Regions from separate parts of the Homo sapiens genome. Here region 2 is linked to region 1. A link means that fine-mapping ties the variant in region 1 to the expression of a gene that starts in the linked region. Tissue or cell type: whole blood. Region 1 holds a variant in brackets; the other region holds the start of a gene. All regions are shown on one strand. Distances are between the middles of the regions.

Region 1 (5,892 bases):
ACTTTCGGAAGCTGAGGTGGGAGGATTGCTTGGGAAGGCAGCTTGAGGCCAGGAGTTTAAGACTAGTCTAGGCAATATAGAGAGACCTTGCCTCTTAAATTTTTTTTTTTAATTAGCCAGGCATAGTAGTGCGTGCCTGTAGTCCTAGCTACTCAGGAGGCTGAGGCAGGAGGATCGCTGGAGCCCAGGAGTTCGAGGTTGCAGTGAGCTGTGTTCATGCCATGGCACTCCAGCCTGGGTGACAGAGCAAAACTCTCTCTCAAAAATAGAAATAAAGGCCAGATGCAGTGGCTCACATTTGTAATCCCAGCACATGGGGAGCCCAAGGCAGAAGGATTGCTTGAGCCTAGGAGTTCAAGACCAGCCTGGGCAACATAGTGAGACTCCATCTCCACAAAATTTTTTTTTTATTATCTAGGCCTGGTGGCAAACAACTGTAGTCCCAGCTACTCAAGAGGCTGAGATGGGAGGATGGCTTGAGCCCAGGAGATGGAGGCTGCAGTGAGCCGTGATCACACTACTGCACTCCAGCCTGGGTAACAGAGACCCTGTTTCAAAAAACTAAAAATAAAGACCTAGGCATGGTGGTTCATGCTGTAATTCTAGCACTTTGGGAGATCAAGGCAGGCAGATCACTTGAGCTCAGGAGCTTGAGACCAGCCTGCGCCACATGGTGAAACATCATCTCTACAAAAAATAAGCCAGATGTGGTAGCACGTGCCTGTAGTCCCAGCTCCTTGGGGAACTGAGGCAGAAGAATTGCTTGATCCCAGGAAGTCAAGGCTGCAGTGAGCCAAGATCATGCCACTGCACTCCAGCCTGGGTGACAAAGTGAGACCGTGTCTCAAAAAATAATAATAAATAAAATTAAAAGTAAGAGGTCAGACACAGTGGCTCACATCTGTAGTTACAACCCTTTGGAAGGCTAAGATGGGAGGATCCCTTGAGCCTAGGAGTTCAAGACAAGCCTGGGCAACATGGAAAGACCCCATCTCTACAAAAAATGTTAAAAAAAAAAAAAAAAAAAGAAAGAAAAAAGAAAAAATGAAAATAAAAAATTCACCGGGCATGGTGGCATGTACCTGTGGTCCCAGCTACTTGGGAGGCTGAGGTGGGAGGATCACTTAGCCCAGGAGATTGAGGCTGCAGTGAGCTGTGTTGTGCCACTGCATTTCATTCAGCCTTGGTGACAGGAGAAGACCCTGTCTCCAAAAAAAAAAATAAAACAAAATAATAAAATAAAACACAGAGAGAGAAGTGAAATTGATAGTAGTTGAAGCTAAGTGGTGGGTATCTGATCAATTTTTCTGTATGTTAAATTTTTTCTTAATAAATGGTTAGAAAAAATTTTAAGTCAATTATGTACAAACTCAGTTTCCTTTGTACAGGAATTGTCCTCACTGCCAAGAAGACATTGTTCATTCCCATTGTGGTTATATTGACAACTGGGGGACAATGGGCTCTTTTACAGCATAGGCACATAATGTGTGTGTGGTTTTTTTTTTTTGAGAGAGAGTTTCGCTCTTGTTGCCCAGGCTGGAGTGCAATGGCGCGATCTCGGCTCGCCGCAACCTCTGCCTCCTGGGTTCAAGCGATTCTCCTGCCTCAGCCTCCCAGCCTGTAGCTGGGATTACAGGCATGCGCCGCCCCCGCCCAGCTAATTTTGTATTTTTAGTAGAGATGGGTTTCTCCATGTTGGTCAGGCTGGTCTTGAACTCCTGACCTCAGGTGATCTGCCCATCTCAGCCTCCCAACATGCTGGGATTACATTATGGTCCCCCATGCCTGGCCCATAATGTGTGTTTTAATCCTCATCAAAATGTCTCAGTACTTTATGAGAAGTTTTCTATTTTGTTTTTCAGTTTTGTGTTTTTTTGTTTTGTTTTGTTTTGTTTTTGTTTTGTTTTATGGAGTCTTGCTCTGTCACCCAGGCTGGAGTGCAGTGGCGTGATCTTGGCTCACTGCAACCTCCGCCTCCCGGGTTCAAGTGATTCTATTGCCTCAGCCTCCCAAGTATCTGGGATTATAGGTGCCCACCACCATGCCTGGATAATTTTTTTTTTTCCATAGAGATGGAGTTTCACCATGTTGGCCAGGCTGGTCTTGAACTCTTGACCTCAAGTGATCCGCCCACCTCAGCCTCCCAAAGTGCTGGGATTACAGACATGAGACTCTGCCAGTTTTCTATTTTCATAGGAAAAAAATTCTAAGTCAAACCACTTACCAGATGTATGATTTTTAGCAAGTTACTTAAATCCTTTGTGCCTCAGTTTCCTCACCTGTAAAATGGGCATGCTAATAGAACCCATCTCATTGGGTTGCGAAAGGATTGAGTGAAGTAATACACACATGGCTGGCATAGAGACAGCGTGCAATACATGTCAGAGAGTTCAGCAATATGTTCTTTTCCATAAACCTGTTCATTCTGAATCTGGGACCCTGTGCATGTTCAGAGATTTGGAGCTGCTCAACAGAGCCAGAGGGAGCCTCATCCTCCCTCTCTGGACTTTCCTGGGGGTCTCATCTCGGGAGTCTCATCCCTGGTGTCACCCCTGAGCTAGTCTGAGTGACTCTCTAAGATGCCTGCCCTCTTTTGGTCTGGACACTCCAGGCCCCAGAGGTGTGAGTTCCTACCAGTTCACCCTGGGTGAGCCGGGCAGGTGGAGTCTCCTGAGACCTCCCCTTCCCCATTCTCCTTCTTGGTCCCTGAGTCCCTGATGAGCTGCCTCAAGAAGCAGGCAGGCAGTGTGCACCCAGCCCTGCCCACCAGCCCACATGGCCCAGCCCACCCATCTTGTGTGGGGCCTCTTGGACCCCAGTACACCTTGGCCACGAATAAGGGGCTGGAAAGGGGGCTGTTTGTGTGGAGGGAGCAGGCCTGGGCTCTAGTCCTATACCTTCCATATGTGCCCCAGGCAAGTATACATCATCCCTTCTCTCACTTGTTCAGCAGTTATTTATTGAATACTTTATGCCAGGCACTGTTCTAGGAGCTTGGGATACATGGATGAACAAGGCAGACAAGTATCCCCATCCGTATGGAGTTTACATTCCAGGGGCAGGAGACAGGTCAGTAAATTATACTTTTGTTAGAGAGTGGTAAGTGCTATGGAGGAAAGGAAAGTTGTTTCTGGAGATGCAGGGTTGGGGGCAGGTTGTAGTCTTTGATAGGGTGTTGGGATGGGCCTCATTGACAAGGTGAGATTTGAGCATAGGCCTGAAGGAGGGGAGGAAGTTCACCAAGCCCACAACCGGGCAGAAATCACAGCCAGAGCAGAGGTCCCATGGTGGGAATGTGTCCGGCCTGGTTGACGAACCACAAGGAGGCCAGCATTGCTGGGGTG[G/A]AGCGACTGAGAGGAAAAGGGAGAGGGAGGGACAGACGGGAGGTCACGAGGTGTGCAGCCAGATCCTGCAGCCACCCACTGGACTTTGGCTTTATGCCGAGTGAAGCCGGGAGCCGTGGGAAGGCTCTGAGCAGAGGAGTCGCCTCCTGACTCTTGCTGTGAAAGGGTGGCTAGGGCTGCTGCGTGGGGGATCTGTACAAGATGGGCAGATCATCCCCGTGCCTCATGGGCTGCTGTGAAGGTCACGGGGGGACACTGGACAAGGAAATGCTTAGAAACAAAAGGCCCTGACTGTGGTTACAGGGCTTCCAGGAGAGAGAGCTGAGTGGCTCTGCTCACAACCGTCTTATTGAAGGGTCAGTGGAGCTCAGGAGAGGGTTATAATTTGCCCAGGGTCATATGTTCTACAACCAATTCAAGATCGGGGACTTCCCACTCTTCTCCCAGGGCAAATACCATCTGGCAGGTGGCTAAGTAGTGCAGCCTTTGGACCTGTGATGGCTGTAGTGCGGCTGACGGGGACTGAGTCCTCCCTTGAAAATCCATTCACTCCACAAATATTTGTTAAGTGCCGGTTATGGGCCAGGCACTGATCTGGACTAGAAGCTGGGACCTAGAGATATTGGGAGACACCTGGCAAGGGCTAAGTCCTGGTCTCTGGTGGGGCTGGTTTCTGGTGGGGCTGGTCTCTGGTGGGGTTGGTCTGTCTCTGGTGGGTTTGGTCTGTCTCTGGTGGGGTTGGTCTCGTCTGGTGGGGTTTGGTCTCTGGTGGGGCTGGTCTCTGGTGTGGTTGGTCTCTGGTGGGGTTGGTCTGTCTCTGGTGGGGTTGGTCTGTCTCTGGTGGGGTTGGTCTCTGGTGGGGTTTGGTCTCTGGTGGGGTTGGTCTGTCTCGGGGCTGGTCTCTGGTGGGGTTGGGCTCTGGTGGGGTTGGGCTCTGCTGGCGCTGGTCTCTGGTGCGGTTGGTCTGTCTCTAGTGCGGTTGGTCTGTCTTTGGTGGGGTTTGGTCTCTGGTGGGGTTGGTCTCTAGTGGGGTTGGTCTCTGGTGGGGTTGGGCTCTGGTGGGGTTGGTCTCTGGTAGGGCTGGTCTCTGGTGGGGTTGGTCTGTCTCTGGTGGGGTTGGTCTCTGGTGGGGTTTGGTCTCTGGTGGGGCTGGTCTCTGGTGGGGTTGGTCTCTGGTGGGGTTGATCTCTGGAGGAGTTGGTCTCTGGTGGGGCTCAGTCGGTCTGTGCAGGAGTCAAGTGTTAGAGGCCACACTACTGAAGGCTGGTGTTGGACTTAGGGTCAAGAGTCCATCTGGGGCTGGGGTCAGGTCACAGCTGGAGTCAGGCAGCCCAGTCAAGAGGCTGTGGAAAGTCAAGCTGGAGAGGCAAGGCCTGCTGGGGGCTGTGGAGGTCAGGAGAAGGCCACACACCACGGGCCAGACTGTGTATGGTAGGGGTGGGACCAAGGTGCCACTGAGCTTTTACGTTTAGGTGGCAAAGAAGATGATGTCATTCATAAAAGCAGGAAGGCATTAGTTCATTTGAGGAACAGAAAGAGTGCAGTGCATCTGATGAGCGGGGAGAGGCGTTTCAGATGAAGAGACAGGCTGGGACCAGGTCATGTAGCCTGGTAGTCTCTTGGGGAATTATTCCAAGAACAATGGGAAGCCCTCAGAGGGCCAGGCAGGAGGTTCTGGGTCTGGTTTGTCTTTGAAAATTATGCGTAGCACACAGATTTAAGGGGGCCGGAGGCCAGGCATGGTGGCTCACGCCTGTAATCCCAGCACTTTGGGAGGCGGAGGAGGGCAGATCATGAGGTCGGGAGTTCGAGACCAGCCTGGCCAACATGGTGAAACCCCATCTCTACTAAAAATACAAAAATTAGCCCGGCATGGTGGTGCACATCTGTAATCCCAGCTACTTGGGAGGCTGACGCAGGAGAATTGCTTGAACCCATGAGGCGGAGGTTGCGGTGAGCAGAGACCACGCCATTGCACTCCAGGCTGGGTGACAAGAGCAAGACTCCCTCTCAAAAAAAAAAAGCAGGGAGGGTGGCTGGGGGGCAGGAATGGGACCAGGAGACCAGTGACGGGCCAAAGTAGTTTAGAGATGGTGGTGACTTTGAGTGGTGGTGGAGAAGAAGAAGGGGGCAGATTCCATAGCTGTCTTGAAGGCAGAAGTGTCAGGATTTGCCGTGGGAGGAAGGGAGAAGGAGGTGAAGGTAGTGCCCAGGCTTGGGGCTGCGCAAGGCATGGTGCTGGCCTCCACTGAGATGGGGAGATGGAGAACACCTTCTGGAGTAGGTAGAAACCAGTTTTGTTCTGGCTGTCTTCTGCTGTGGCACTCATCTGTAGCCACCAAGTAGGTGGCTGAGGATGCACACTGAAACTTCCTAAAGAGAGAAACGAACATGTACCTTTGTGGGTTATCAACGTGCCCCCATACTTAAGAGTGTGGGGCCGGGCGTGGTGGCTCACGCCTGTAATCCCAGCACTTTGGGAGGCCGTGGCGGGTGGATCACGAGGTCAGGAGATGGAGACCATCCTGGCTAACATGGTGAAACCCCG
Region 2 (5,446 bases), 23 kb after region 1:
TGGCTATTAAATGAAACCCTAGTCCTGCTTCATGTCCCTGTCTTCTTCCATCCAATACTCTACTGTATTCTCTCATTTCTGCCTCACTAAAACTTCTTTCTCCTTGCACTTGGGGGGGTATCAACTGTGGCCACATGGCAAAGTACCATGAGAAGTATCCTTTCCCCAGAAACTACCAACAGCTCAGCTCACAGCACCTACAAGATAGAAGCCTAGGGATCTAGCAGCAGATGCCTGAAGGCTGCACCCCAAAAGGCAAGAAGAAACCCAAGACCAACAGCTACCCATGTACTGGTACCATTCCTAACACCCTTCATGGGGCGAGGGAGCTGCTTGATTCCTGCATGAACTCCTCAGCTTAGAATTCAAGGGACCCTTACCAACACAGCCCTCAAGCCTCTCATCTCCTGTTTTCCTGTGCTCCACCTGATCCCTTCAAAATGTTCAAAAATGCAACTGATTTGACTCCCACAACTATTTAGAACTAAATCTTTGTCACCAACATCAAATATCAAAGGCACTAAAATATATCCAAAAGGCAGGCTAATGGAAAAGACCCATCTCAGAAATCTGATGGGTCCTGAGACTAAATAACTCTAACCTATTATGACCTTCATAATAATTGCAATCATACTGTCACAAGATCTAAGGGAGAGAGAAACTGACAGGAGGAAGGCGGGTGAGAATGAATGAGAAAGTGGAAGGCTAGGATAAGACTGCTTCCGGCCTAAAGCCCCAGGCCTTCTGAACCTCCTGGTGTTCAGAACAATTTAACATTTTCAGAAGACACTAACACTAATCGATATCCTGCAGATGGTGAAGATAGAGAGTGTCTCAGCCTATGGTCACAGTAAAGACAGTGGCAAAACCAAACATAGAAACAACGTGTCCTGACTCCCAGCCCAGCACTCTCTGCCTCCTGCCAAGATGCCTCTACACCACAAATAACTACCCTAGTCTGTCTCAGGTGTTCCTAGATCTCTCCTCTGCCTTCCCTATATAAACTTTAGTTAAGTGTGTGACCACAGTAAGTACTTCAAGTGTAAGTCTTGGGTGTACGAAGTTAAATGTTCCTATCTTCAAATCAGACCAATGAGCACGACCCAGTGCGTTAACTATTGTAAGGAACGCGCCACAGGAGAGAAGCCCAAAGTTCTGCCTCGAGAAGCATAGAAAGGCTCCAGCATATCTCAAATACGTAAGCATGAGTATGTTTCGGCATGATGGCCATTCAGTAAATGCCAATTTGCAGTTTCTCCGTTCCTAACATCCCCTAAAGTAACGAGCAGAGTGGTCATCAGGAGTATATAAACGCAGGGCAAGCGCACAGCAAACATTGGTGCTGGGCCCTGAGCGCCCAGAACTTGCAACGTGCCCGACTCAGCAACGGAAAGAATCGCCCAGATTTAGAAGCATCCAACATAGTGCGAGAGTTTTCCCTGCTTTCCTTCTTTGAATGATCACTACAAACCCATGGGATCGGTGCTATTGTTATTCCTATTTTGCAAACGAGGAAACAAACGAGATTAGGCGTGGGCCTGCGATCACCAAGAAAAAAGTTTGGCGAGGTAGAGGCGGGAGCCCACGTCTGTCCCGGGTTCCCTCAACTACGCTGTGCAGCTCAAACGCGGCCGTGGCCGTGGCCGTATTGCGGGGCCGAGGCCTTAAAAGGCTGGACCCGCACTCACCCTTACTTCACAAGCTCCTCCCTGAAAGCAAAACGGGCCTTCTGAGACCAGGAACGAACTCAATCCCGAGTTGGCCAGGATCCAGGTGGGCCAGCCGCGCGTCTCTTGCCCGGCACCTAGCTCGGTTCCCACGGAAAGACCCCCGTCTCTCGTCCCAAGCCCCACAGGGTCCCCTCGCCGCAGGATGCCCCCCGATTGTCGCGCCCGGGCCTCCTACCTGCACGTCGTCTCCAGACTCCACACCGGAAAGAGAGAGTGGGAGGGGGCGGAGCGACGGGGGTCACTTCCGTGTCCCGGAAGTATACCTCTGAGGTCACGGGGCGAGGTCGGGTTCCGGAAGACGCCGGCATTATTCCTCCCAAAGAGTTTAAGACTCGTCATAAGGAAAGACGGTTTATTACTTAAGGGAGAGCGAAAAGAGGTAGAGGGCTGGTTGTCGCTGCGAGCGGGTCGGCCTAAGCGACAGTACGAAGCGGCTACACCCGCGGGGTGAGGTGGGCCTGTATTCCATGATGGCGGTGGTCGTGGCTAGACAGACTTCCGCCATCCTGACTCCCGCCCTGGCAGCCTTGGAGCGGCAGCGCCCCTTGTGTGGAGCAGGGGAATAACAACAACAAAACGGCCTTAATTAAAGCTAGGGTGGCGCCGGCCTGTGGTCCCAGTTACTCAGGAGGCTGAGGATCGCTTCGTCCAAGTAGTTCGAGGCCAGCCTAGGCAACATAGTCGGGGAAAACACACCGTAATCACTTACTTTGGCATATTATATAATGGGCAAAATAAGAATAAATTATTCAATATGTATTTTCAGACCGGTCTGGGCTAAACAGTTTATATGCATTGCTTCATTTACTCCTCAAGACATTATCAAATAATTTTGATTTCCCTCTTACAGATAAAGGATGTTAACTGAGAGCACACCTTTGCAGAAGGGTTTGGAATTCTAGCTTCAAAGCCCTCGTGTTTAATAGCTACTTCCACATAGCCCTCTAATAACAATATACATGTATATATTTCGACCGAATCTTGTTCTGTAGCCAAGGCTGGAGTGCAGTGGCGCAATCTCGGCTGACCGCAACCTCTGCCTCCCAGGTTCAAGCTATTCTGCCTCAGCCTCCCAAGTAGCTGGGACTACAGGCGCGTGCCACCACGCCCGACAAATTTTTTGTGTGTGTGTATTAGTAGAGACGGGGTTTTACCGTGTTGACTAGGGTGGTCTGGATTTTCTGACCTCGTGATCCACCTGCCTCGGCCTCCCAAAGTGCTGGGATTACAGGCGTGAGCCACCGTGCCCAGCCTCTAATAACAATATTGAAGGACCTTGAAGGCTTGGGAGAATATGTCGGAGCTGTGGGGAAGGGCCAAGAAGTGTACCTCACAGAGCTAGGCAAGCGGTAGATACATTTTATCTATGTACTATATGTAATATTTATATGGAATATATATAGTATTTTTGTATTACATACTATATAAATATTATAAATATATTTTAAATATATAAATATATCCCGTGGCTCCAGCCTGGGTGACACAGCGAGACCCTGTCTCAAAAAAAAAAAAAATTTATTCTGCTAAACTGAAAAACTCAACATACCTTCTTTTTTTTTTTGAGACGGAGTCTGGCTCTTGTTGCCCAGGCTGGAGTGCAGTGACGCCATCTTGGCTCACTGCAAGCTCCGCCTCCTGGGTTCAAGTGATTCTCCTGCCTCATCTCCCGAGTAGCTGGGATTACAGGTGTGCGCCACCACACCCGGCTAATTTTTGTATTTTTAGTAGAGACGGGGTTTCACCATGTTGTCCAGGCTGGTCTCGAACTCCTGCCTCAGGTGATCCACCCGCCTCGGTCTCCCAAAGGGCTGGCATTATAGGCGTGAGCCAATGCACCCAGCCTCAACATACCTTCTCGTTGCATTGCATTTCTTCGATGATGAGTGACGTCAGACATCTCTTTACGGATTGTTTTAACCATTTGCATCTCTTCTGTGAAATGTCTGTATTTTTTGAAGGAGAGGGCTTTTTTGTTTTAATGAGCTTCCCAGTATGTTAGCAGAGACTGGAGTATTGTGGAGTGAGTTCCGCTTTGATTAAGAGTTGTATTAAACAGACCTCCAAACCTCATGTGGCTTCATGGAGGGAGCAAGCCTTGATCTTATGGCTGAAGGCAGCCCACACAATCACCTCAGGACAAATTTTTCCACAGGGAAGCCTATCTTTATCCCAGAAACCATCAAAGTCACTGCTTTCAAACTCCACTTTATTTAATCAACATATTTATTGTTTCTGCAGTTATTAGCTATGGTTCTTTGGGCAAAAATTGTAACCTCTCTGGGCTTCAGTTTTCTCATCTGTGAAATGGGATGATAATAGCATATTTTTATTTTTATTCATTTTTTTTTTTTTTTTTGAGACAGAGTCTCACTGTTGCCTTCCCCTGCCTCAGCCTCCCTAGTAGCTGGGACTACAGGCACACACCACCACACCCGGGTAGTTTTTTTTTTTTTTTTTTGTATTTTTAGTAGAGACGGGGTTTCACCATGTTGGCCCAGGCTGATTTCGAACTCCTGACCTCAGGTGATCCAGCCCCCGCGGTCTTCCAAAGTGCTGAGATTACAGATGTGAGCCACCGCGCCTGGCCGATAATAGTACATTTTTAAATGTATGTTGAAAACTTCAGGGCTCAGTGGCTCACGCCTATAATTCCAACACTGTGGGAGACTGAGGCAGGAGGATCACTTGAGCTCAGGAGTTGGAGACCAGTCTGGGCAACATGGTGAAACACCTTCTCTACAACAAATAGAAAAATTAACCAGGTATGGTGACCTGCACCTATAATCCCAGCTACTTGGGAGGATCACCTGATCCTGGGAGGTGAAGGCTGCAGTGAGCTGTGATCACACCACTGCACTCCAGCCTGGGCGATAGTGAGACCCAATATATATATTTTTAAAATGTGTAATGAAAACCTGTATCTTTTGTGTTTTGAGACAGAGTCTCACTCTGTCGCCCAGGCTGGAGTGCAGTCGCACGATCTCAGCTCACCACAACCTCCTCCTCCCGGGTTCGAGCAATTCTCCTGCCTCAGCCTCCCAAGTAGTTGGGATTACAGGCGCCCTTCACCACACCTGGCTAATTTTTTGTATTTTTAGTAGAGACGGGGTTTCACCATGTTGTCCAGGCTGATCTTGAACTCCTGACCTCAGGTGATCCACCAGCCTCGGCCTCCCAAAGTGCTAGGATTACAGGCATGAGCCACCGCACCCAGCCAAAAACCTGTACCTTTATTGGACGCTTACTCTTTGTCAGGCACTGAGATACAATCATGGCATTTGAACTGAGACTTGAAAGTAGAGTAGGAATTAGCTACGTGAAGGTGTGAAGAATGGTCTGGGCAGGGAGAATAGAATATGCAAAGGCCCTGAAGTGGGTAGGTGTTTGGAGAACTCAAGGAATTAAAAAATGGCCAGTAGTACTGGGGTGTTGTGAATAAGGGAAGAGGAATGGGGGCTGAGGCTGGAGGGGCAGCACAGCCACTTTCCGTGGGGCCTCACCTCACTGTTGCCATGTCTGCGTTCCCCACCCCACCGCACCCCTGCGCTGTCAACACTGCCAGCACAGGGGTGTACTTACCCTCCCCTCTCAGAGCTCACACACTCACTCAGGGAGCACTCACTGAGCACCTAGGATGTGTCTGACATTGTAAATACTTGGGATACATCAGTGACAAAAACAATGGTCCCTACCCTCTCAAAGTCTACATTCTG

The links. PIP is the estimated chance that this variant, and not a neighbour inherited with it, causes the effect.
Region 2: it holds the start of RPS14, and the variant in region 1 is fine-mapped to the expression of RPS14 in whole blood (TOPMed, PIP above 0.99).

The regions. Positions count from the first base shown.
Region 1 is chr5:150,424,916-150,430,807 of GRCh38, forward strand. No RefSeq gene overlaps it. Among named protein-coding and RNA genes, the nearest start is that of CD74, 15 kb to the left of the region's middle. RefSeq lists enhancers at 2,903-3,404, 3,405-3,904, 4,543-4,592, 4,933-4,982. The variant G/A (reference allele first, on the strand shown) is at 3,345.
Region 2 is chr5:150,447,798-150,453,243 of GRCh38, forward strand. It overlaps RPS14 (ribosomal protein S14), which reads right to left and starts at 1,942. Exons shown (of 5, transcript NM_005617.4): 1 at 1,906-1,942. RefSeq lists enhancers at 1,459-2,397, 2,011-2,330.